3 separate regions of the Homo sapiens genome follow, and regions 2 and 3 are each linked to region 1. The links come from fine-mapping of genetic effects on gene expression. A gene starts in region 1. Each other region holds a variant in brackets. All regions are shown on one strand. Distances are from middle to middle. Region 1 holds the start of MED28 (mediator complex subunit 28). Region 2 overlaps CLRN2 (clarin 2). Region 3 overlaps FAM184B (family with sequence similarity 184 member B).

What was found. PIP is the estimated chance that this variant, and not a neighbour inherited with it, causes the effect.
Region 2: its variant is fine-mapped to the expression of MED28 in whole blood (TOPMed, PIP above 0.99).
Region 3: its variant is fine-mapped to the expression of MED28 in naive CD8 T cells (Schmiedel 2018, PIP 0.95). The same link has a PIP of 0.9 or more in Th2 cells.

Annotation. Positions count from the first base shown.
Region 1 is chr4:17,609,623-17,617,801 of GRCh38, reverse strand. It overlaps MED28 (mediator complex subunit 28), which reads right to left and starts at 3,161. Exons shown (of 4, transcript NM_025205.5): 1 at 2,989-3,161. The coding sequence starts at 3,147. It overlaps MED28-DT (MED28 divergent transcript), which reads left to right and starts at 3,222. Exons shown (of 3, transcript NR_186331.1): 1 at 3,222-3,660; 2 at 3,764-3,870. RefSeq lists enhancers at 3,012-3,121, 3,222-3,511, 2,617-3,816.
Region 2 is chr4:17,515,921-17,524,099 of GRCh38, reverse strand. It overlaps CLRN2 (clarin 2), which reads right to left. Exons shown (of 3, transcript NM_001079827.2): 2 at 1,057-1,236. Among named protein-coding and RNA genes, the nearest start is that of CLRN2, 4.8 kb to the right of the region's middle. The variant A/T (reference allele first, on the strand shown) is at 3,062.
Region 3 is chr4:17,634,250-17,642,428 of GRCh38, reverse strand. It overlaps FAM184B (family with sequence similarity 184 member B), which reads left to right. Exons shown (of 18, transcript NM_015688.2): 13 at 201-373; 14 at 3,033-3,179; 15 at 5,784-5,901; 16 at 7,316-7,420. Among named protein-coding and RNA genes, the nearest start is that of MED28, 24 kb to the right of the region's middle. RefSeq lists a silencer at 5,552-5,641. The variant G/CTG (reference allele first, on the strand shown) is at 4,757.

The DNA.
Region 1 (8,179 bases):
CCAAGTAGCTGGGATTAAGGCGTGTGCCACCAGAGACCACTAATTTTTGTATTTTTAGTTAGAGATGGGGTTTCACCATGTTGCCCAGGATGGTCTCGAACTCGTGACCTCAAGTGATCCAGCCACCTTGGCCTCCCAAAGTGCTGGGATTACAGGCGTGAGCCACCGCATCTGCCTAGAAAGAGAACAGCTTTTTAAAAGCATGGCTAAAACAGAGCCTTTGCCTGGAAAGTAAGTGCTTGTCCTCATTTCCACAAACCCAACGGCTGGCTTTCAGCAAGTAACTTGCCCTCACTGAGCCTCAGTTTCTCTACCTATGAATGGAGGAAATGGAACTAGATGGTCTCCAACGTTCCCTCCAAAATCAAGAGTGCATGAGCTCAATAAATTCCTTCCATCAAAGAGCATGTGCTAAGCAGCTAGAATGAGCAGACAGAGACCTCAAGGAGTGGCACCCCAATAGGAATGAGAAGCAGGTAAGTAGGTGCTGCTATGTGCCACTGGAGGCTGTGAAAATTGAGGTCCACACAGAACACAAGGAAGGAAACAGGAAAAGTTCCAAAGAAAATGTGGCCTTTGAATTGAATCGTGAGACAAGACTAGACAGATCGTGATCACCCAGCAGCAGAGAGGATCCAGCTCGCACCACTCCCACTCCCCTTCACCTGGCTAAGTCAAAATGCTTCTTTGGCTTTCCTGCTCTCTGGGAAGCCTTCTTTGATGTCCACACCTATATGTGCTCCCACAGTACCCCAGGTTTCTTCTATCAGAGCAGTGATCCTACAACAAGGCAACTGCCTGCCGTTTATTACAAGCTTCCTGAAGGCAGGGACTGGTTTTCTCTGTATTCTCTGTATGGATAATCAAGTCCCAGAGGGAGTTCTCTCTCAAGGGCACCTACAGACATATATGTGAATCAGGCAAGGAGTTCTGTGCACAAGCCAACTACACTACAGGCTCCACACTACAGATTCCTTCAATGTCTGACAAATATTCATCTAGCACTTGCTATCTACTACCACTGTATTAGCACTACAGGTTACACAATGTGAGGGGTGGGGGTACAAAACAGGTAGTCTCTGACTTCATGGAGCCGAATTTAATGGTAAGTATTAAAAAGAAGGCCAGGGAAGGGTCCACTGAGGAAGTGATGCAGTGAGCTGAGGAGCGGCCTGGAAGCCCAAAGAGAAAACAAATGGTACACGTGGGAAAGTCTTGTGTGGCTGCAGTAAGGAAACGAGTCTGAAGGAGAGAACGCAACATGCAAAGCCTGGGAGACCACACTAAACATCTTGATCTTATCTCAAGGGCAACAAGCAGCCACTGTACGTTTTTAAGCAGCAGGGTGCTGGGAGTCAACTTTGGCTAAGACTTGTACAGGGCCAGTCTTTCAGCAAGTGCCCATGACTGAGAGCCAGCTCCCCTCAAGCACAATGCTAGATGCTGCTCTAAAGTTCACCAGCCCCTTCCTTTACCACTTAGCACCACCTCAAAGGTGTCTCCTCCTCCTCCTCCTAAACGGTCTGTCCTTTAAATCATTTATTTCTGGCTAGGCGCAGTGGCTCACGCCTGTAATCCCAGCACTTTGGGAGGCCGAGGCGGGTGGATCACGAGGTCAGGAGTTCGAGACCAGCCTGGCCAAGATAGTGAAGCCCTGTCTCTACTAAAAAATAAAAAAAATAGCATGGTGGCAGGTGCCTGTAATCCCAGCAACTCGGGAGGCTGAGGCAGGAAAATCGCTTGAACCCGGGAGGCGGAGGTTGCAGTAAGCCGAAATTGCGCCACTGTACTCCAGCCTGGGCGAGAGAGTGAGACTCCATCTCAAATCATTTATTTCTAAATCTTTGTACATCCGTGTGGTAAAAGCATTTTGTCCATGCAGTCTGAATAATCGCTTGCAAATTATATTCATTTACCACTGTGCTATTAGATACAATACAAAAGTCACAAAGTTGGGATTTTTATTTATTTATATTTTATTTTACTTTTTTGAGACGGAGTCGAGCTCTTGTCACCCACGCTGGAGTGCAATGGCGCGGTCTCCGCTCACTGCAACCTCCGCATCCCAGGTTCAAGCGATTCTCCTGCCTCAGCCTCTCGAGTACCTGGGATTACAGGCGCACGCCACCACGCCTGGCTAATTTTTGTATTTTTAGTAGAGTCAGGGTTTCACCATGTTGGTCAGGCTGGTCTCGAACTCCTGACCTCATGATCCGCCAGCCTCGGCCTCCCAAAGTGCTGGGATTACAGGCGTGAGCCACCGCGCCCGGCAAAACTGGGATTTAAAATGTGGAAAAGTTAACTCCAATTTGAACGTACATTACTTTATTACTACACAGGAATAGCTCATCTTCCACTTTAAAGACTACTGGAAATCACCAGAGCACTTATTTTCACCTCTCTATCTTCCCTCAATATACAGTTCACCTTTCTTGCTACAAGGTAAACTCCTTGGGCAAAACTGAGAGATTGGGTCACCTGTGCCTCCCTCCCTCCCTAACCTCCAGCATTCCTCCTTCCTCAGCTCTTAGTACCAAGCTGCGCCTGGTAACTTAAGTCAATTTCCGCTCTTAAGAGTCCCTTTAGGATCGTTTAAAGGTGAAGCCCAGCGGAAAGGATACAGGATACAGCAGTGAAACTCTCAGCTCCGAAAAGGCTTGAGCCTCTTACTAAACATGCAGGGATGCAAGAAACGGTGCTCGGGGATGAGACTAAGGACCGGCTGGGAATCTGGAAGGGTTCCAAGTTTGGGGTTTAGGCAAACTTCGGGTTCACGTTTCCACAAACGTCGAGTTTACGCGCCCCCGCCAGCAGACCTGAATTGAATACGGGCCACGGGGAAGCCTAAAGCAAGTGACTTACTTTAAGCCTCAGTTTCCCCATTTGTGAATTAGTTGCTCGGATCCCTGGAGGAGATACGCGTACGCGCAGTTCACGTTTCAGAAAAAAGGGAAGGCTAGGGACAAAGACGCCCATGTCTTATATTACCTCGAAAGATGACTCCAACTCGTCCACCAAAGTACTGCTGGAAGGTCTAGGAGCGCCTGGAGCTGCCTGAAGAAGCGAAGCTTGGCCCGGAAGGCCCGGCGGGGCCTGAGGGGGACCGGGTGGCTGCCCAGAAAACATACCCCCTAGTGGAGCCGCCATGTTTGGAATGGCGCAAGAGAGATCCACTGCGCCTGCGCGGAAGCCGGCTCAGAAGCTCACGTGGCTGGTGTAGTAGGCGTGGTCACGTGACAGGACCGAGCGATGGGAGGATTCTGGTGCACCCCGGAAGGAGGATTTTTAATTCTTCTGTTTTCTTGTCTATCGCAAAACAGAGTTTACATGTATTTTCCTTTTTTCTTAGCTTAAGAATTGAAGACTTTGGCCGGATTAGACCTGGTTGTGTGGAGAGGAGAATTAATAACTACAGTGGAGCGAGCCCTCCTGCGAGAGTCAGGATACTACTATGCTAGTCCCGACTCTGCCCCAAATGCCTGGAGAGACTTTGGCTAAGTCACTTTTTCTTTCCGCGGGCTGTTTACCGTTGGTAAAAGGAGAGGGTCACCCACTCACTCCACAAACATTTGTTGAGTCATTGGTTATAGCGGGAACAAGACAGGCAAAGTTCTTCCTGAATTCTGGTCGGAGATGGATAACGGAAACAACTTTGTTGAGGTTCCCAATGTGCCCGGCACTGATGTCTTTAAATATTTATGGTTACATCAAAGAGAAAGTCACTATGCTAATCTTTTTTTTTCTTTCTTTTCTTTTTTCTCAGGGTCTCGTTCTGTCGCCCTGGCCGGAGTGCAGTGTCATGATCAGGGCTCGACCTCCCGGGCTCAAACAATCCCCCTACTTCAGCCACCCAAGTAGCTAGGACCACAGGTGCGTGCAGTCGCGACGGGCTTTTTTTTTTTTTTTTTTTTTTTTTTTTAGTTGAGTCAGGTGTTTTACTGAGCTCAAGTGATTCTACCGCCGCGGCCTCCCAAAGTGTTGGGAATACAGTAATGAGCCAAGGCGCCAGGCTGCTAATTTTTTTTTTTTGAGACAGAGTCTCGCTTTGTCGCCCAGGCTGGAGTGCAGTGGCGCGATCTTGGCTCACTGCAAGCTCCGCCTCCCGGGTTCACGCCATTCTCCTGCCTCAGCATCCCGAGTAGCTGGGACTACAGGCGCCCGCCACCACGCCCAGCTAATTTTTTGTATATTTGGTAGAGATGGGGTTTCACCGTGTTAGCCAGGATGGTCTCGATCTCCTAACCTCGTGATCCGCCCGACTCGGCCTCCCAAAGTGCTGAGATTACAGGCGTGAGCCACCGCGCCCGGCACTAGGCTGCTAATCTTGTAGTAACCTGCTTTTAACATTTGCTTATCTCTCTCTTTTTTTTTGGTGACGGAGTCTCGCTCTGTCGCCCAGGCTGGAATGCAGTGGCGCGATCTCGGCTCACTGAAACCTCCGCCTCCTGGGTTCAAGCAATTCTCCTGCCTCAGCCTTCCGAGTAGCTGGGACTACAGGCGCCCGCCGCTCGGCTAGTTTTTCTGTATTTTAGTAGCGCCGGGGTTTCACCTTGTTGCCCAGGCTGGTCTCGAACTCCTGAGCTCAGACAATCCGCCCGCCTCGGTCTTCCAAAGTGCTAGGATTACAGGCGTGAGCCACCGTGCCCAACCTTCTTATTTATCTCTTTAAAACCAAATAACTTTTTTTCATTATATCTGATTTTACAGTTATTACCCAGCACACTTACTGAGCGCTCCACTTCCCAGGCACTATTTAATGATCTGGAGGTTATAGCAATCATCCCAAATCTCTGGAAGGAGACAGACAAGCACATAAATACATAGCAATATTGTGCAGAGAGAAGAGCTGGGAAGGAAAATGAAACCCAGTAAGGGGATGGCTAGTGAGAGGGGTGTTCTTTGAGATAGGTGATTGGAGGAGGCCTCTCCAAGGAGATCTGGACTGTAGTGACTGGCATGAAAATTTAACTAGGAGTGCTTTCTACACCGAAGGATCCCTGAAGAAGCAGCCTGCCTGGGATGTTTAAGGAACCACAGGAAGCTCATTGCCAGAGGAGTGAGCCAGGGCAGAAATGTTCAGAGAAAAAGCAGGAGCTTCCCTTTGCCAACCAGGCTCGGATCAAGTCATCTTCCCAGCCTCAGTTTCACTTAGATCCCCACTCCTAAGTACTTTCCCCTGTTTAATTTTCTTCACAACATTTATGTAATCTGAAATTATCTTGTTCATTTTTTCATAACTGAATCACCTGCCCTCCTCCTCCTTCTCTCTCTGTCATACACATGCCAACTAGAAAATAAGTTCCGTGCATCAGAGCCTGCCCATCTTATTCACCTGTATCCCCAGAATCTAGAATGGTGCCTGGCATAATAGATATAATAAATATGTGATGACTGAAAGAACCAGAAGAGACCGCCAGGAGGAAACAAGCCTACTCCAGCAGTTTTCAGACAGTTTTGGTCTCAAGACCCCTTTACACTCCTAAAAATTATTGAGGATCCCAAAGTTTTTGTTTATGTGGGTTAAGTCTGCTAATATTTATCTGATAAGTTAAAACTGAGAATTTTAGGCTGGAGGCAGTGGCTCATGCCTGTAATCCCAGCACTTTGGGAGGCCGAGGCAGCCGGATCACAAGGTCAGGAGATCAAGACCATCCTGGCTAACATGGTGAAACCCCATCTCTACTAAAAATACAAAAAATTAGCCAGGCGTTGTGGCGGGCGCCTGTAGTCCCAGTTACTTGGGAGGCTGAGGCCGGAGAATGGGGTGAACCCAGGAGGCAGAGCTTGCAGTGAGCCGAGATCATGCCACTACACTGCAGCCTGGTTGAGAGCAAGACTCCGTCTCAAAAAAAACAAAAACAGAATTTTAAAAATCAATTCATTAAAAAATAATTCATTAAATGTTAACAAAAACAATCTTTATTAAAACTAATACTCTATTTTCTAAAATAAGGAATAAGTAAAAAGTATGGCATCATTTTACTTTTTTGCAAATCTCTCTCTATATATATATATTTTTTTTGAGACAGGGTCTTACTCTGTTGCCCAGGCTGCAGTGCAGTTTCACAATTACAGCTCACCATAACTTCCGCCTCCCAGGCTCCAGCAATTCTCCCAATCAGCCTCCCAAGTAGCTGGAACTACAGGCATGTGCCAACACACCTGGCTAATTTTTTGTAGAGATGGGGTCTTGCCATGTTGCCCAGGCTGGTCTTGAACTCCTGGGCTCAAGCAGTCCACCTACCTCGGCCTCCCAAAGTGCTGGAATTATAGGAGTGAGCCACCGTGCCCAGCCTTTCAAGTCTCATTAATATCCAGTTTACCTAACCTCATTGTAAATTTCCTGCGAACATGGTCAGTGGTATTTCTCTTGCAGTCCTCCTAGAGTACTGCACAAAAAAGCACTAACATTTTTTGGATTTTGCTGAAAACCCATCACTTCATTTATAAGATGAGAGAACACTGCCTTAGAAAAATTACTAAGAACAAGATAATCTATGTAGAGGTTTAATACTGTGCCTTGCATAAACTAAGTTGCTAAGGAGTGACACGATGTAACTCCTATTTTTAATTTTTAGAGATAAGGTCTCACTATGTTGCCCAGGCTAATCTTGAGCTCCTGGCCTCAAGTGATCCTCCCACCTTGGCCTCCCAAAATTCTGAGAATACAGGCATGAGCCACTGGGCCCGGCCTGATTTATGTTTTAAAATAATCTTTCTAGTCATACAGATAACAGGAGAACAAGTGGAGAAGGCAGGGAGACCAGTGAAAGAGAGTAATCTAGGAGTGCAGAGAGGATGGTGACTTGTACCAGGGCAGTTGAGACAGCGGTGGTGAGACTTGGGTCAAATAAACATGATTTGTTTAACAACCAACTGGTTGGGAATGGAATGTTAGTATGATTTGAATGTACCTTTTTTTGTTTTGAGAGGGAATCACGCCCTGTCACCCAGGTTGGTTTTGGAGTGCAGTGGTGCAATGTTGGCTCACTACAACCTCTGCCTCCCGGGTTCAAGTGATTTCTCCTGCCTCAGCCTCCCAAGTAGCTGGGACTACAGGCACATGCCACCACACCCAGCTAGTTTTTGTATTTTTAGGAGACACAGGGTTCGTGAAGTTCCTGGCAGCTAGATGTACATTCAGTGACAACTATTAAATTTCATCTCAGCCAGGCACGGTGGCTCACATCTGTAATCCCAGCACTTTGGGAGGCCTATACAGGTGGATCACTTGAGGCCAGGAGTTCGAGACCAGCCTGGGCAACATGGCAAAACCCATCTCTACTAAAAATACAGAAACTAGCTGGGCGTGGTGGTGTGCACCTGTAGTCCTAGCTACCTGGGAGGCTGAGGCATGAGAATCGCTTGAACCTGGGAGGCAGAGGTTGCAGTCAGTTGAGATCGTGCTACTGCACTCCAGCCTGGGTGAGAGAATGAGATTGTCTCAAAAAAAAAAATTTCATCTCAACCAGATTAGGTAAGCCACATGAAACCAGGGCCTGTGCTATGCTTTTTGTATACCACACACTAGTAAACACAGGAGTTCCACTGTTCCTTTATCCATAAAAAGCCTTTGACAGAATCCTTCTATCAAAGCCCGACTGAGGCTCTGTATCACCCAGAATAAATCTGTTTTCAGTTTTCTTCATAAGCCTGTAATTCCAACCCTCTAATTCCATCTTTCCTGATGAAGTGACTTCTGAACATGAATAACCAGGGAAACCTGTGTTTGCTCACTACACTCACCGGGTTTTAATTCTAATAAATACCACAAACAAGCATGCCCATTTCCATTCCCTCTGTAAACCAGTTTAGATATACAATATTTTTGCATGTCAAATTTCTTAAATGTTAAAATTAACAGTAACAAAGAGCTTTTCCTGTTAAACATTTTCAAAGTTAAAAAAAGGGCACACATCCCATTGATGGATTAATTTGATTCATCGGATACAAAAGTAAAAACGAGGAGAGCTTTGTTCTAAGTCTGCACCAATGGAATTATGTTGATTGGTTATAGTTTCAGGAGGTGAGCAAACAGTTTTACCCGTTGACAGTCCCCGTTTTTTTTTTTTTTAGGAGATGGGGTCTTGGTTTGTTGCCCCAGCTAGAGTGCAGTGGCTCATAGCTCACTCATAGCTCACTGCAGCCTCAAACTCCTGGGCTCAAGCAATCCTGCCCC
Region 2 (8,179 bases), 94 kb after region 1:
CCACCTCTGCCACTCATTGTGGTGCGACTGTTTAACTTCTCTGAGCCTCAGGCTCTTCATCTGTAATTGTGGGTCTAATAATACCTCCCATAGGGATGTGGTGAGATTTAAATGAAGCAATGCATGCAAAATCTCCAGGTCCCTGCCCAGCCCTTAGTGGTTGCTCAGTAAGTTGCATCTAGTTTAAGGGCATGGTGCAGTGAAGGTGTTGGGGAGGTGAGAGGAGGGAGAGTTGAGACAGCCAGTGAGCCACGTCTGCATTAATATGCCCAAGTGTGTGTGTGGGGGGAACACCAAAGACCTTGGCAACTAGATGGCACTCACTTCCCCTTCTCAACCCAGAGCCTGAATGGAGGAGCCTTTCACGAATGGCCTCTTGCTCACACTACCCTTCTCTTCTGTCATTTGTGGAGTTCCTCCCAGCCTTAGCTGCAGCACCAGCTCCATCTCTTTCCCATCTCAGGGCCCCCACCTCTCCCTACTTCCAGCTCTCTGTCTTCTGGCTTCTTCTTTCACCTCGATCTCTCTTCACTGCTCTAAGCCCTCAGCCATTCACGTACTCTAATAAGATGCTTCTTTGTTGTGACAGACTCTGCAACTTAAAGAGGAAATTCTTGAGCACTTTGGGAGGCTAAGACAGGTGGATCCCTTGAGCTTAGGAGTTTGAGACTAGCCTGGGCAACATGGTGAAACCTGTCTCTATAAAAAATACAAAAAATTAGCTGGGCATGGTGGTGCACGCCTGTACTCCCAGCTACTTGGGGGCCTGAGGTGGGAAGATCACTTGAGCCCAGGAGGTCAAGGCTGCAGTGAACTGAGATCGCACCACTGCACTTCAGTCTGGGTGACAAAGTGAGACCCTGTCTCAAAGAAAAAAAAAAAAAAAGAAAAAGAAAAAGAGGACATTCATTCCATGCCCATCAAGAAGGTCTTAGACCCAGGAAGGTCAAGGCTCCAGTGGGGCATTTTAGTTCCTTCACACCTTCTGCCCAACTACTTGGAGCCCAGCCCTATGATGGTGTGGACATAATTTTCTCTCCCTAAGGGACTTCTTACCTGCCAGGACATTCCATAGGCAGATGCCCCCAGGACCGCTGACTGCCCGGTACGGGACCTGGATCATGTTAAGAATGGCAAAGCCCATGCTGACCAGAGCCAGGGCCAAGGCCAGGAAGAGGAGCAGCAGAATCATCACATGAAGGCCTGCGTTGAGCTCCTTCACCAGGTGTGGGAAGACTGGGGAGACAAGACACAGCCACTATTTCAATGTCAGAGTTAGACTCACTTTCATGAAGTCCAAGCTTGCTTACCACGAAGGCTTCGACAGACAGGGGTGAGGGCAAGACAGCAAGCGTGGGGATTTCAAACAGCGGGAGACTTTCTGAGATGAACTCATGGCCCCCAGATTCATGCTTGTCAGTTGACCAACAAGCCTCTGTTCCTTAGAGTGGACACAAAATCAAAATATGCCCTGGCTGTCAATTTAAGTTGCATTGAGCTTGAAGCTCTGGGATCTGATGTGAACTGATGCACACAGGCCCCAGTGACTTAGCAAGGTAGACCCTGGCTTATCCCCATGTATGAAGGACACATAATTCTCACGTTGCACAACGTTTTATTAAAATATTAATTTGCCTTATGAGTATGGCAAAATAAGTTAGTGAAATCTTAATTCATATTTGTTTTCTCTATGTTTGCCAGCAGTACCAGCTGTGAAGATGAAATGACATAACATAATAGAGTAGCTCAAATAGTGCCTGGGAAAGTCAGTTCTCAAAAATGGCAGCTGTGGTTATTGCTGTTATATTTTGACAGTCTTGGGAAAGTCATGTGACTTCTCAAGCCTCAATTTCTTCATCAGTACAATGGGGATAGTAATCCCTGCATATGAATTGAGGATAATCAACATTTACTAAGTGCAGTCATGGGCCAAACATTTTACATCGTCATCTTGTTCAATGTGCATGACAAAGACATGAGGTAGATTTTATAAACTCCTTATACCCACAGGCTTGGAGACATTAATTGCTTGTGTTTGGGGAAGGCAACTCTTAATTCTATATAAGATTATAGTTCAATATACTATGAGAACAAATGTGACCCTGAAAGAGCCCGTCCTTCAAGATGGGTCCTGAGTGGTTAACTGGCTCTAAATTTAAAGTAGGGCCAAGTGGCCATTTACTGACTAGGGGGTCACACGCATCTTCTGAGTTCCTTGAAAACCCACACCTTTTTATCTTTGAGATCTGCCTCAGCCAATCAGGGCTCAGCTGTAATGACCAATCGGGGCTCAGCTGTACCAGCTAATCAGGGTTCAGCTGTATCCACCAATCAGAACTAAGTGAATTTGAATCCTTTATTTACCCAAACAGACCTGACTGGAAACCTGGGTGGGAACTTTTGCTATAAAATCTGAGCCTTCCCTTTCTTCTCTGGAATACACCTTCCTTTTACACCGGAGGCTGTGTTTCCCTGGTTTGCAAACCGTTAACTGGAATAAATTCTTTACTCCAAATTCCTTTTCTGAGAACTGTTGTTCACAACTGTATGGTATCAACAGTGTCAAGTCATGATCTTTAGTAGTTTTACATGAAGAATTGAACATTATGAAAGCTACAGAACTTCTGAGCATACTCATTCCTCTGCAATTGCTCCAAGGTTCCTGCTGAATACCCACCCTGATGGAACTAGTTCCTTTGCTGGTTCACCTGCCTCTCTTAGTCACTGAAGGTTGGCGTCTCCCAGTCCTGAGAACTAGAGTTTTTGTTTTTCCCGTTAGGTGTCCCGTTAGGTGACACATTTTCAGGCACTCCACGTTTACATTGTGCGTTCTGATGTTTCTTTCCAGTTCTGAATTTCCATTTATTTTTATCTCCCTATGGTTATCTAATCAGCATTGGAAACTTTACCCTGGAAGATGAGCTCCTTTCCAGTGAGTTTGTCTTTGTAAAGCGTCTTTCTTCCCTGTGCTTCTATCCCATCTTAATGTCCCTTAGATTTTTTTTTTCTCTTTTCAAACTCTCAGCCCCTTTTTGTTTCAGACACAGTAGCTTGTGCTGAT[A/T]TTTATTTATTTTTATTTTTAAAGACAGAATCTTGTTCTGTCACCCAGGCTGGAGTGCAGTGGCACCATCTCGGCTTGGTGCAACCTCCTTCTCTCTGATTCAAGCAATTCTCATGCCTCAGCCTTTCCAATAGCTGGGATTACAGGCACCCGCCTCCATGCCTGGCTAATTTTTGCATTTTTAGCAGGGACGGGGGTTTCACCATGTTGACCAGGCTGGTCTCAAACTCCTGGCCTCAAGTGATCTGCCCGTGCTGGGATTACAGGCATGAGCCACCAGACCCTGCCGCTTGTGCCTGATTTTTAAATTGTTTCATTATCCCCTTTCTTAACCAGGCAATCCTTAGGACACACGACTAACATAGTAATGCTTACCAAAACTCTTACAATAGAAAACAGTCACCTATGTGAATGGTAAAGATCAAAATGTTTGCTAAAACACCGTGTTGACAATGGTGTAAGGAAGAGGCACTCTCAAGTCTCATAGAAATATTAATTCATGTAACCTTGTTAGAGGGCAATTTGGCAACATCTACTAAAGCAAATTCACTTCTAGGAATTTATTTTCCAGAAGCACTCCCACATGTGCTCAAAGCGTGGATCAAATATTGGATATTCATTACAATAGCAAAAGATTGGAGAAAAAACAGTATGTGAATAGACTGATTTAATAAAGTATCCATAATGTCCATAATGTATATAATTCATCTTTTAAAAAGAAAGAATTATATCCACATAATGATTGAAACCATATCCAGATTTGATTTTTAAAAATTGAGAAATAATCATATTAGGATGACGGGGGAGAGGGAATTTGGGGAATGTGGAGTGATGTGGAGAGGGTGGTAAAGAGTGCCCAGTCCTCGGCCTTCATAGTAGGAAGTGCATTAACTATAATTAAAAAATACTTATTGGCAAAGGGCAAATCTCACTCAACCCCCACATTCTTGGGCCATAACACAGGGCTCAGGACCTCATGTTTAATAGAGATTTTATTATTTTTTAATATATGTCATTATTTAGAAATTCGAGGCTGGGGCAGTGGCTCATGCCTGTAATCCCAGCACTTCTGGGAGCCATTATGGGGGGATTGCTTGAGGCTAGGAGTTGGAGATAAGTCTGGGCAACATAGCAAGGCTCTGTCTCTAAATTAAATTATTTTTTAAAAAAGAAGAAAAAAGTAGAAATTCAAATCATTTCTCAGGAGTGTTAATGCACCAGTTCTTTCTACTTTCTCACTGAGAGGTGACTCTGCCTTAGCCTGACACCCAGTGCTGCCCTAGGAAAGCTGTTGCTCACTTGCCTTTCACATTTGAAATCCAGGTTCCAAGAGTTTTAGATGTCTCCCACTAGGAATTAAATTTAAGTTTCTAGCTTGAAATCCATGACCCTACACACGACTCATGGTGATAAATGACAACACGATTCATGGTGATAAATGACAACAGCCACCTATATGGGGTGCAGACTATGTGCCGGTGGCTTTATACATATTCTTTGTTCTGTTGCTCATGGACACCCTCTCTCATGCTTACAAATGAGGAAACTGAGGCTCGGAGAAGTGAAATAGCTTAGCTACGCTCCCACAGCAAGAAAAGTGTCAGCTTAACTACTCTATTACAGGGCTAGAGCAGAAAAATCAGAAAGCACAGATAAGTAGAGGTTTAAAATTCTAAACATAGAGTCTTTTGAATCCTGGAGGTCTCATTTTGAATTTGAATAGATATAGTTGTTTCCTACACATTAGAGGCAACTCACTTGAAAGCAGAATTGATTAATCATTCTATCAGCATCATTCTATCAGCATATGATGCATCTATCAGCATCTATCAGCATATGATGCATCTATCAGCATCTATCAGCATCTAAGATAATTTGTTTGCTCCGAATCCCAGAGAGGTCTGGCAGTCCTTTTCGCCCCAGCAGGGCAAATAAGAAAAGCAGGACATCTGAAGTCAAACCCAGGTCCTGGCCACTAGTGGAATACCTGTGAGGCAGGAAGTAGAGAGGAACCAGAGAACTAAAAGCTGCAAAGCAATCTATTACATTAGGTGCTTTTAAAGAAATTATTTTATGTATCGATTTCTCTGGTCTCTAATTTCCTCATCAGTAAAATGGGCGTAATAAAATCTCTTCTCTAGCATAGTAAAAATGGAAGGAAATGAACTACAAGGCAATGGCTTCAGATACTGTGTTCTGTGCCTAGTATATATTTATCTGCCTCTCCTTTATCAGATGGTAAATTTTTCTTTCTTTTTCCTTTCTCTTTTTTTTTTTTAGATGGATTTTCACTCTTTTCACCCAGGCTGGAGTGCAATGGCACAATCTTGGCTCACTGCAACCTCCACCTCCCAAGTTCAAGTGATTCTCCTGCCTCAGCCTCCTGAGTAGCTGGGATTACAGGCACCTGCCACCACGCCCGGCTAATTTTTGTATTTTTAGTAGAGACGTGGTTTCACCATGTTGGCCAGGCTGGTCTCAAACTCCTGATCTCAGGTGATCCACCTGCCTTGGCCTCCCAAAGTGCTGGGATTACAGGCGTGAGCCACTGTACCCGGCCAGATGTTAAGCTTTTCTAGGGCAAGTACTTGTCTGGTTTGTTCATCCCTGTTTTCTTAAGAGCCTGGTCTGTAAATACTCCATAGTACAATTGAATGTGTGGACAATGCTAAAGTAATGTTTGTCTTTTTCTTTCTCTAGCCACCCAAACAGCCATGTTGACTTGTTTTTATTTCATAGGGCCTGGGTATAAAAAAAGGACCTTAATCTTTGCGATGGATAGTTCTTTGGTTTTCTCCATGATTGGCGTGGGAATTTATTCCCCTGGGTGATTTTTTGGGGAGGCCTCTGTGATGAGAAAAGTGGCTGTTTGTGAACGAGACCCAATAAACCTCCCCATCCCAGAGTTTGCAAAGCATTTTCACTTACGTCCCCATCTACACTGATCTGCGACTGTGGGGATTATTTTTTTTTTTTTCTACAGATGGATAGTGAATGGCAGAAAGAGACCCCAGGAGAAACAGACTCCTGGTTGTGGGAGGCTCTGATATACCCCGTAGCTGCCTCGAGGTTACACTGTGCTAGAATTAAAAGCTGTAAATCTAAAGGAGACTAGACTGGCACTATCAGTGTCCCTGAGCTGTACTGGGGTAAAGCCAGCCAAGCACAGGAGGAACCTGGCCCCAGGCTCCTCGTGAATGCTTTGAAAGAGAATCACATCCAAGGTACTGCGAATGGATGTTTACAGACCCTCCTCTGAGACAACCCCAGGGCAGCAGGAAACAAAACCTTCTCAAATACGCTCCTACTCAGGGACAAGAATAAAATGTCCTTTATGCTTCTCACAGGGTTCTGATGCTTTCCAGACCAGACCACGTTAGATGAACCCAGGGGAATGTTTCCCATTGGTGTCCTTCTAAGAAGGAAGAAGGAGGAAGGCAAGAAGTACTTACTGAGTTCCTCCAAGGCTCAAACAAAATATGCATTTGTTTGCAGCTTCCTACTCGAAGCAGTTTACATTTCTGTGAGCTGGGAATGGCAGGGGTCTGGTCATTAGGTTAATGCTGGCATGTGACTGCTGTTTAATCTTCTCACCCCATTCAAGTTTCAACGATTTACCTGTTGGGGTTCAGAAACCAACACCCCTAAAATATGAAGCTTTGTGAAGAAGTCTCAAGGTCTCTCTGGCCTCCCCTCTCCCTCGTGTCTCTCCATTCTTTGTCTGTCTCATAAGCACAGGATGAGGTTGTTCTCTGACATTCCCTTACCTGCCTACATCCAGACCTACCAAAGAAAAAGACCTCTGGTCCCTTCCCTGAGTGTTCATTAATTGTACCCATATCACAGGAAGAAAGACTAAAGTCTGTTAACACAGCTGGACAGACTTTTGTCACAAACCAATGTCTGCTCTGTGGGCTCAACAGACTTTGTCCCAGCTCACTGTATGTTCTTTAAGCCCATTGAATTTCCCTAAAAATAATTTACTAGTCCCCTAAAATCATCCACACTTCCCCATCTCTCTTTCCCCTAAGATGAAGAGGATACAACCACCTGTACCCCATTGAGATAGCGGACAATCACTCTGTGATTTTTCCCCTATGCATGCTAATAAATGTGTAAGCCATTTTCCCTATTAATCTGCCTTTTGTCAGTAGATTGTTTAGAGAACCTTCAGAGTGCAAAGGGGAAGTTTTCTTGACCCCTAAAGTCCCGAAGACATCCTTTATAGCAAAGCATCTAGTTCAGAATCGAGTAGTCCATGTAGTTGTCATGGTTAGCTTTTAGCATTTCTTTTTTTTATTTGTTTATGTGTGTGTGTTTTCAAGTTTTATGTTATAATTTTGATGGAGCTATTTGTTCAATATCCAGGGTCTAATCTAATTGCTAGGTAAATATAAATATGCCCAGACATATTGATCTTGAATATACATAACAAATGTAAATTTTTGTGTGTTTAAATGATGACAATTTGTATTATATTTGTCAACGGTTCCAGCTTTTTGTCCTTATAAATTTAATACGACATTTACCTTGGCCAGATTTCTATAAACTACTACAATACTGAAATATAGAAATCAAGGAATGAATACAATTCTGTATCACCCTACATTGGCATGGTATTGATTAATTACGGTTTTGTGCAGACACTTTTCACCAGTGATCTCATCGATTCAAAAGGCTTGCAGAATATTGCCTGTTTTGTTTTTTCCTTTCCAGAAGCCCGTTCCTAAGTCCAGCTTGGATTCCTGTTTGTGCAGACTGCTCTGCTTACATCCTGGGCAGCTCTGATGCTACACTGAATGCCAGCCAAAGTCGGTGCCCGCTCACGTTCACAGAGAACAGGCAAGTGCCTTGCTTGAGGTCTCCCCACCAGTAAACTTTCCAGTAGGGGTTTCAGCCAGGGTAGTCTGATTCCAGAACCCAAGCACAGTGCCCCTTTGCATTTTCTCAGACTATGAAGCTTTTACAAAAGTAGATGTGGAAAGGGTCATCATGCTTCCCAAAGGTTCAGTTCTGCAGGCAGCCTCCACCCACTTGTTGTGGTCATGTGGCATGGGTCTGGAGTCCGGCTCTACTGTTTCCTGGCTGGGTGACCTCAGGTAAGTTATGTAACCTCTC
Region 3 (8,179 bases), 25 kb before region 1:
AGATTTGGCCAACTCCCAAAGGAGGAAATTTTTTAAGAGACTAGATGGGAGTCCCTGCAGGGAACTCAGGAGCCTGCCACAGGCTCCAGCCTGGGCGGGGTGCCAGTGGGTCTCCATCTCGCCGCAGCACATCTCTGGCCCTTTCTGCCTTGTCTGCCCCTGCGCCTCCTGAAAACACCTCTCCTGGTTGCCTTCCTCAGGAGCGGGGCGGCCCGGGCCAGGCCGGCTCCCCACCGGGCGCTGCTGGGCAGGGTTCCGGCGAGGGATGCGGGCTCTGGGAGGAGAACGCGCAGCTCCAGGACGCGGTGCGGCGGCTGCGCGCGGAGGTGGAGCAGCATCAGCAGGAGGCGCAGAAGCTCCGAGACCAGCGCAGGTGGGTGACCCGGCGCGCCCCGCCACCGCGCCACCCTCACCCCCTACCCCGCCACCCCCCCTCCCCCTACTGCGGCTGGCTGAGCCTGAGACCTGAAATGGGTCACTGCCTCGGCATCCTGCCCCACAAGACACTAGACACTGAATGCGCCAGCATTTCACAGATGTTACTCCTCTGACCCATGAAAAGTCCCAGAGCTCCAGAAATTCTGGATCTCAAAACCGCAGAGGAAGTGCCTTGAAATAAAAGAGGGAGTCTGGCTGGGCGCGGTGGCTCACGCCTGTAATCCCAGCACTTTGGTTGGCAGAGGCGGGCGCATCACGAGGTCAGGAATTCGAGACCAGCCTGGACAACATGATGAAACCCTGTCTCCACTAAAAATACAAAAAAAAAAAAAAAAAAAAAAAAAAAAGGCCGGGCGTGGTGGTGTGTGCCTGTAATCCCAGTTATTCGGGAGGCTGAGGCAGGAAAATCGCGTGAACTCGGGAGGACCAGGTTGCAGTGAGCCAAGATCGCGCCATTGCACTCCAGCCTGGGCGACAATGCAAGACTCCGTCTCAAAAAAAAAAAAAAAAAAAAAAAAAAAAAAAAAAAGAGGGAGTCCTGTTTGTTTCCCTGCAAATCAGGGCATTTATGAGACTGAGAATTGGACCAAAAGTGTCATCAAATCCAACCTTACGGAGACGGTGTAGTGGAATAGTTCAGACCATGCGGTGTCTTCTTAACTAGCTGTGCGCTCTTAATTAGCTGTGTGAGGTTGGGTGAGTTAGCTGACCTCTCCCAGACTGAGTCCTCTGTAAAATGGGGATAAGACTCCAGCCTCGGCTGGCGTGGTAGCTCACGCCTGTAATACCAGTACTTTGGGAGGCTGAGGCAGGCACATCACTTGAGGTCAGGAGTCCAAGACCAGCCTGGGCAACATAGTGAAACCCCGTCTCTACTAAAAATAGAAAAATTGGCCAAGCGTGGTGGTGCATGCCTGCAGTCCCGGCTACTCGGGAGGTTGGTGAGGGGGGATTGCTTGAGCCTGGGAGGTGGAGGTTGCACTGAGTTGAGATCGGGCCACTGCACTTCAGCCTGGGCGGCAGAGCCACAATCTGTCTCAAAAAACAAAACAAACAAAACAAAAAACCTGGCCTGTCAGGGCTGTTGTAGAGTGCAATGGAATGTGTGCAGGAGGCTTGGCATGTCCCTAGCATGAATGAAACGCTTGGTTAATTGTAGAAGTGAAAAACCTATCATCAATCCTGAACTCAGAGCCTTTCTTCCTCTTGTTGGAAAGCTTTTAATACAAATTCAATTTCTTTAAAGACACAGGATATTTCATATTATCTATTTCTTAAGTGAGCTTTAGCAGTTTGTATCTTTCAAAGAATTCGTCTATTTCATCCAAGTTTTTGAATGTCCTAATGCCAATCATAAAATTGCTCATAATTTTTTTTGTCATTTTAATGTCTGGAGGATTCCTTTTTTTTAATATTTGTCAGCTGTGTACACTGAACCCTGTTGTGTTGGCCCAAAATTGCTTTGAGCCTTGACTGTGCTTGTTCATTTATTTTCTTTTTTTTTTTTTTGAGACAGTCTTGCTCTTTTGCCCAGGCTGGAGTGCAGTGGTGCCATCTCGGCTCACTGCAACCTCCACCTCCCAGGTTCAAGTGATTCTTCTGCCTCAGCCTCCTGAGTAGCTGGGATTACAGGCGGACACCACCATGCCCAGCTAATTTTTTTTTTTTTTTTTTGTATTTTTAGTAGAGACGAGGTTTCACCATGTTGGTCAGGCTGGTCTCGAACTCCTGTCCTCGTGATCCTCCCGCCTTGGCCTCCCAAAGTGCTGGGATTACAGATGTGAGCCACCGCACCCAGCCCAATTTAATTTTCATAACCACTTCTTTTGATAAAGGTGAGGGATAAAGATTCAGGGAGTGGCCAGGTGTGGTGGCTCACGCGTGTAATCCCAGCACTTTGGGAGGCTGAAGCGCATGGATCACCCGAGGTCAGGAGTTCGAGACTAGCCTGGCCAACATGGTGAAACCCCCCGTCTTTACTAAAAATACAAAAAATTGGCTGGGCCTGGTGCTGGGCGCCTGTAATCCCAGCCACTTGGGAGGCTGAGGCAGGAGAACTGCTTGAACCCGGGAGGTGAAGGTTGCAGTGAGCCGAGATCGTGCCATTGCACTCCACCCTGAGCAACAAGAGCAAGACTCCGTCTCAAAAAAAAAAAAAAGTTCAGGGAGGCTTTCCACTGCAGTGTAGTTGTTAGGGAAGACCTGGTCTCCCAGGTCTCAGAGTCCCAGCGTTCAGGCCATACTGATAGAGAATCTCAGCCTCTTGCCTCCCCGCCTGTCCCAAGTGAAGAGTGTGTTTTCTGGGGCTCCCCTGCAGGGCTGCTCTCCATCACTTCCACCTGAAGTCTGTCCCCATGCTCAGGTTTCTCCTTCTGAGATGGGAGGGTGCTGAGAAGGGGTCCCATAGTGGGGGTTTGTCCTGGACTCCACAACTCAAGAGACTTCAGCTCTTCTTCCCACAGGTGTCCTTAGATCACAATTTCTCCCCACCCAGATCTCCCAAACTGGGCAGCGATGAGGGAAATAAACCCCAGAGCCCAAGGGGTGCCATCCCTGGAGCTGGGCAAGCCTGGCTGTGCTTTCATCCACCACAGGTTCCTGGAGGAGACTCAGCAAGCCCAGCGGGCCAGGGAGGTGGAGACACTGCGCCAGGAACACCGGAAGGAGATGCAGGCCATGGTGGCAGATTTCAGTAGTGCCCAGGCCCAGCTCCAGGCCCGGCTGGCTGCCCTGGAAGCCGAGTAAGTGAGGCCTCGGGCCCCAGGGAGGGTCTTGCAAATGTACCATTCAGTAGGGTGGCCAACTCACCCCAATGACCCTGGGATTTCCTGGTTTTCAAATTGAAAGTCCTGGGTTCTGGCCAGGCACGGTGGCTCATGCCTGGAATCCAGCACTTTGGGAGGCTGAGGCAGGTGGATCACTTGAGCTCAGGAGATGGAGACCAGCCTGGCCAACATGGCGAAACCCCATCTCTACTGAAAATACAAAATTACAGGTGTGGTGGCACACGCCTGTAATCCCAGCTACTCTGGAGGCTGAGGCAGGAGGATCACTTGAGCCCAGGAGGCAGAGCTTTCAGTGAACGGAGATCAGGACCCTGCACTCCAGCTTCAGCAACAGAGCAAGTTCAGGGCAGGAGGCGGGGTGTGGTGGGGGGAACTAGCCAGGGGCTCATCAGTCTCCCTTCATTTTATGAGGCTATGTTCCCCTTTTCTGCAGGGCAGTGGGAATTTGTGAGGATGAGCATTGGTTTAACCCTCACACTTCGAAGAAATCAGAAGGATCAGGGCTGCTCAATTAGAATTGTTATTCCCACTGGTCCCTCATGCAAACATATTGCATTTATTCATTCAACAAATAATTGTTAAGGACCCATTGTATGCCCAGCACTGCTTTAGGCTCTGGAGTTATAGCAGGGAACAAAACAAAGACAATGCTCTCATAGGCTCACAAATTCTGCTGAGAATTCGGATAAGAAATAAGCAAACAGGCTGTGCTTGGTGGCTCATGCCTGTAATCCTAGCACTTTGCATGGCTGAGGCTTGAGCCCAGGGTGGACTGCTTGAGCCCAGGAGTTCGAGACCAGCCTGGGCAACATTGTGAAACTCCGTCTCTACAAAAAATACAAAAAAAAAATTGCTGGGCATGGTGGTGTGTGCCTATAGTCCCAGCTACTTGGAAGGCTGAGGCGGGAGGATCGTCTGAGCTCAGGAGGTTGAGGTTGCAGTGATCTGTGATTGCACCCCTGCACTCCAGCCTGGGCTACAGAGAGAGAAACTCTGTCTCAAAACAAAACAAAACAAAACAAAAAAAATAGACCCTGTCTCAAAAAAAAAAAAAAAAAAAAAAAAAAAAAGCAAACAGTTAACATCATACCAGGCGGTGAAAGTGCTGGAAGACAGGATTGGGAGTGGCAAGGGTGGGCAAAACAAGGCCTCTGTGAGGAGGTGATGTTTAAGTACAAGGAGGTGAGGGCACTCCTGAGGCATCAGTGAGAGGGAGGGTGAGTGGGAGGAGAGGAGCTGGGTGAAGGGACTCCTGCCCTGATGGGAAGGAGTTTGGATGTGTTCAGAGTGCCCTGGGAAGCCTTCACAAGGCACTGGGCAGGAGTGACATGGCCTGACTTGCCTTTTCACAGGGTCACTTCTGACTGCTGAGAAGAAACAGGGGGAGGGGGTGACTAGCAAGACCATTTAGGATGTGATGGCAGCAAGCCAGGTCCAAACAGGTGAAGCCACTTGCCCAAGGTCAGGCAGCATTAATTCAGTTTAAATGTCACCTGTCTGACCTTTAGCCTGAGCTCTTAAAAACTTCTCCA[G/CTG]TCTCCAATACAAAGCAAATCATCCAAAAGCCAGCAGGAAAGGTTTTACCAGTTACAGTCTAACGGGCACTTACTATATGCCAGGCTCCCATTATCACATTGAATTCTCACAACCACCCAGTTTCATGCCCATTTTAAAGGAGAGGGAACTGGGGCCCACACACAGGTGAAATGATGCCCAAGGTCACATATCTAGAAAAAAGAAGAGCCAGTATTAGAGCCGGGTCATCTCACCCAAAGCCCTGGGCTCTTATCAACTCCAGTCAGTAGATTATCTGCACCCCCAGCCCTCCTCTCCTCACCACCCAGTTACTCTTCTCTGGCTTCACGCTGAAAAAGCAGTGGGGGCCGGGCGCGGTGGCCCACGCCTGTAATCCCAGCACTTTGGGAGGCCCAGGAGGGCGGATCACGAGGTCAGGAATTCCAGACCAGCCTGGCCAACATAGTGAAACCCCGTCTCCTCTAAAAATACAAAAATTTCCCTGGCACGGTGGCGCGCGCCTGTAGTACCAGCTGCTCAGGAGGCTGTGAGGCACAAGAATCGCTTGAACCAGGGAGGCGGAGGTTGCAGAGAGCCGAGACCGCGCCATTGCACTGCAGCCTGGGCGACAGAGGGAGACTCCGTCTCCAAAAAAGAAAAAAAAGGCCATAGGTACCGGCCACTGGCCGCGCTCTATGTCCGCCAGCAGATGGCGCCAGAGCATTAAGAGAACCTACGGGACATTTTCCTGCCCTGGTCTGTTCTCCCAGCAGCATCCCTGGCTCTTGAAGCCCCGCTGAGTGCAGCATCTATGTGCACACAGGGGCCTTTGCTTCCTGGCCCTGCAGCCTCAGGGGACCTGACAGAGCTGGAATCCTGGGTTCGGCAAGCCATCTCCCCAGGGGGCCCTGGGCAAGCCGCTGCTGCTATCTGGGCCTCCCTGGCCGGGCTGAACACAGGATGGCATTCCCATCGTGTGCACTTGTTCTCCCTCTTTGTTGAGTAATTGCTGTAAGGGGGACTTGACTGCATGCCTGCTTGGAACAGACTGAAAGATTCCGGAGAGAAGCCAGGGAAGGGAGCGTCCAGGCCCGAGGACCTTCAGCTCATTGGCCGCCTGCAGACCCGCCTGAAGGAGAGAGAGGACATCATCAAGCAGCTCACGGTGAGGCTGTCAGGGGGCGCCTCACCCACGCACCTGGCCGGGCACTGCGGGCTCCCCCGGGAGGGGCGTTCACTTGCACCCAGCATTTCTCTAGGTGCCCTAATATCTTACAAAGAATCCTTTCTTGCCGTGCGCGGTGGCTCAAGCCTGTAATCCCAGCACTTTGGGAGGCGGAGGCGGGTGGATCACTTGAGGTCAGGAGTTCGGGACCAGCCTAGCCATGTTGAAACCCTGTCTCTACTAAAAATACAAAAATTAGCTGGGTGTGGTTGTGGGCATCTGTAATTCCAGCTTCTAGGAAGGCTGAGGCAGGAGAATCACTTGAACCCGAGAGACAGAGGTTGCAGTGAGCCAGCATAGCGCCACTGCACTCCAGTCTGGGCGACAGAGCAAGACTGTCTCAAAGAAAAACTCCTTTCTTTTCTATTATTAAAGAAGACATACTCACTAAAAAATTAATACAGGAAAATAGGAGGCAAAAAAAAATCACTTTACTCCCAAGTCCAACAGCATTTGCCCCATGTTAATATTGGTTTTTTAACTTACAGAATTTGAGAAAATCTATAATGGCTTAGGTTTGAATTGTAGTAGAATTAGTGTTTTTATTGTTGATCTTCTTTTTGTAAAAATGACCACCTGTTTTCTACTTAGCAAAGCCACTCCCTAAGCCCCTTGGAAAGAACCCAGCTCCCTCTGATTCAGTATCCAACCAAGGCCTGCTGGTCATTTCTGCTCCTGCTCACCTGCCTCACTTCTGTATCTCTCTGTGCTTTGAAAATTAGGTGACATTGATATGGAATTATTGCTCATTTGCTACGTGTGAACAAAGGTATCATGGGTTTTTTTTTTTTTAAAGTAATCCTTATTTCTAAGAAATACATACTGATGTTTTTACAGAGAAAAATTATGTAATAACTGGAATTTAGTAATAATACAGCAGGAGAGAAAAAAGTGGAAAATGATACACACAAACAAGATCGGCCATATAGTTATTATAGGTAAAGTGGGGATGGATTTCATTACTCTCCCTATGTTTGTATATGTTAGGCAACACAAATGTCAAACAAGACAGAGGAAGAAAGGCGGCAAAATCCTTTGCATACCTGGGGGTTTTCTTTCTTTGCCTTAATTACTAACTTTCTGCATTAGGTTACCTTCACATGCTAAGAACAGTTGAATTTTCAATTTCCTAAGGCATCAGCTTGCCCTTTTCTTTACAAGAGGGGCTGGGGACATAAAAAAAGCAAAGGTGCTTCCTCAAAAGCTTCAGTGCCTGGCAGCTTTATTCCCACTGACTTCCCCTTCCTCCCCTGGACTTTCCTTCTCTATTCTGCCCTCACAGCCATCTTCCTTCAAGTCAAACCCAGTGCTGTGTGGTTAGGCTCATTTAGACTCAGTTGTATTGGTTTTCTAGGAAGAGAGAAGATTTCACTACGCAGCATTCCCCAGTGCCATGTCCCACCGGAATCGGTCTTTCTCTTTCAATCCTCACCCGGGATATTTGACCCCTTCCATGAAGGTAAATTGGTTCTAATGGTTTTAATGCATTATACAATTCCATTGGTTTCGTTTTTCTTAAAGGTAACCACAGGTTATTTAAGGGCTGGTGTACGCTCAGAAAAATATTCATTGGAAAAAAAAAACCCACTTGTTTATATCTATGGCTGGGCGGATTATGTGTGATTTTTATTTTTTATGGGATTTTGTATTTTCCAAATTTTCTAGAATAAATGTGTGTCAGTATTAAGAATAGCTCTATCTAGGTGATGGGAGGGAGAAGAGTAAGAATCTTCCACTTCTTAACTATTTCTGTACATATTTTTGGAATTTTTCACAATGAGCATATTCACATTCAATTATCTACTATCACAAAATCCTAAAGGCTCTTAAAAAATAGTATTTTTGGCTGGGTGCAATGGCTCACACCTGTAATCCCAGCACTTTGGGAGGCCGAGGTGGGTGGATCACTTGAGGTCAGGATTTCAAGACCAGCCTGGCCAACGTGGTGAAACTCCAACTCTATTAAAAATACAAAAATTAGCTGGGCTTGGTGGCAGATGCCTGTAATCCCAGCTACTCAGGAGGCCGAGGTAGGAGAATCACTTGAACCCAGGAGGCGGAGGTTGCAGTGAGCTGAGATCGCACCACCGTACTCCAGCTTGGGTGACAGAGCAAGGCTACATCTTAAAAACAAAAATAGTATTTTTAAAAATAGTTCACAGGACAATACACTTGTGACTTAACTAATGTCATCTCGTGTAGTTTTTATGTATCCCTC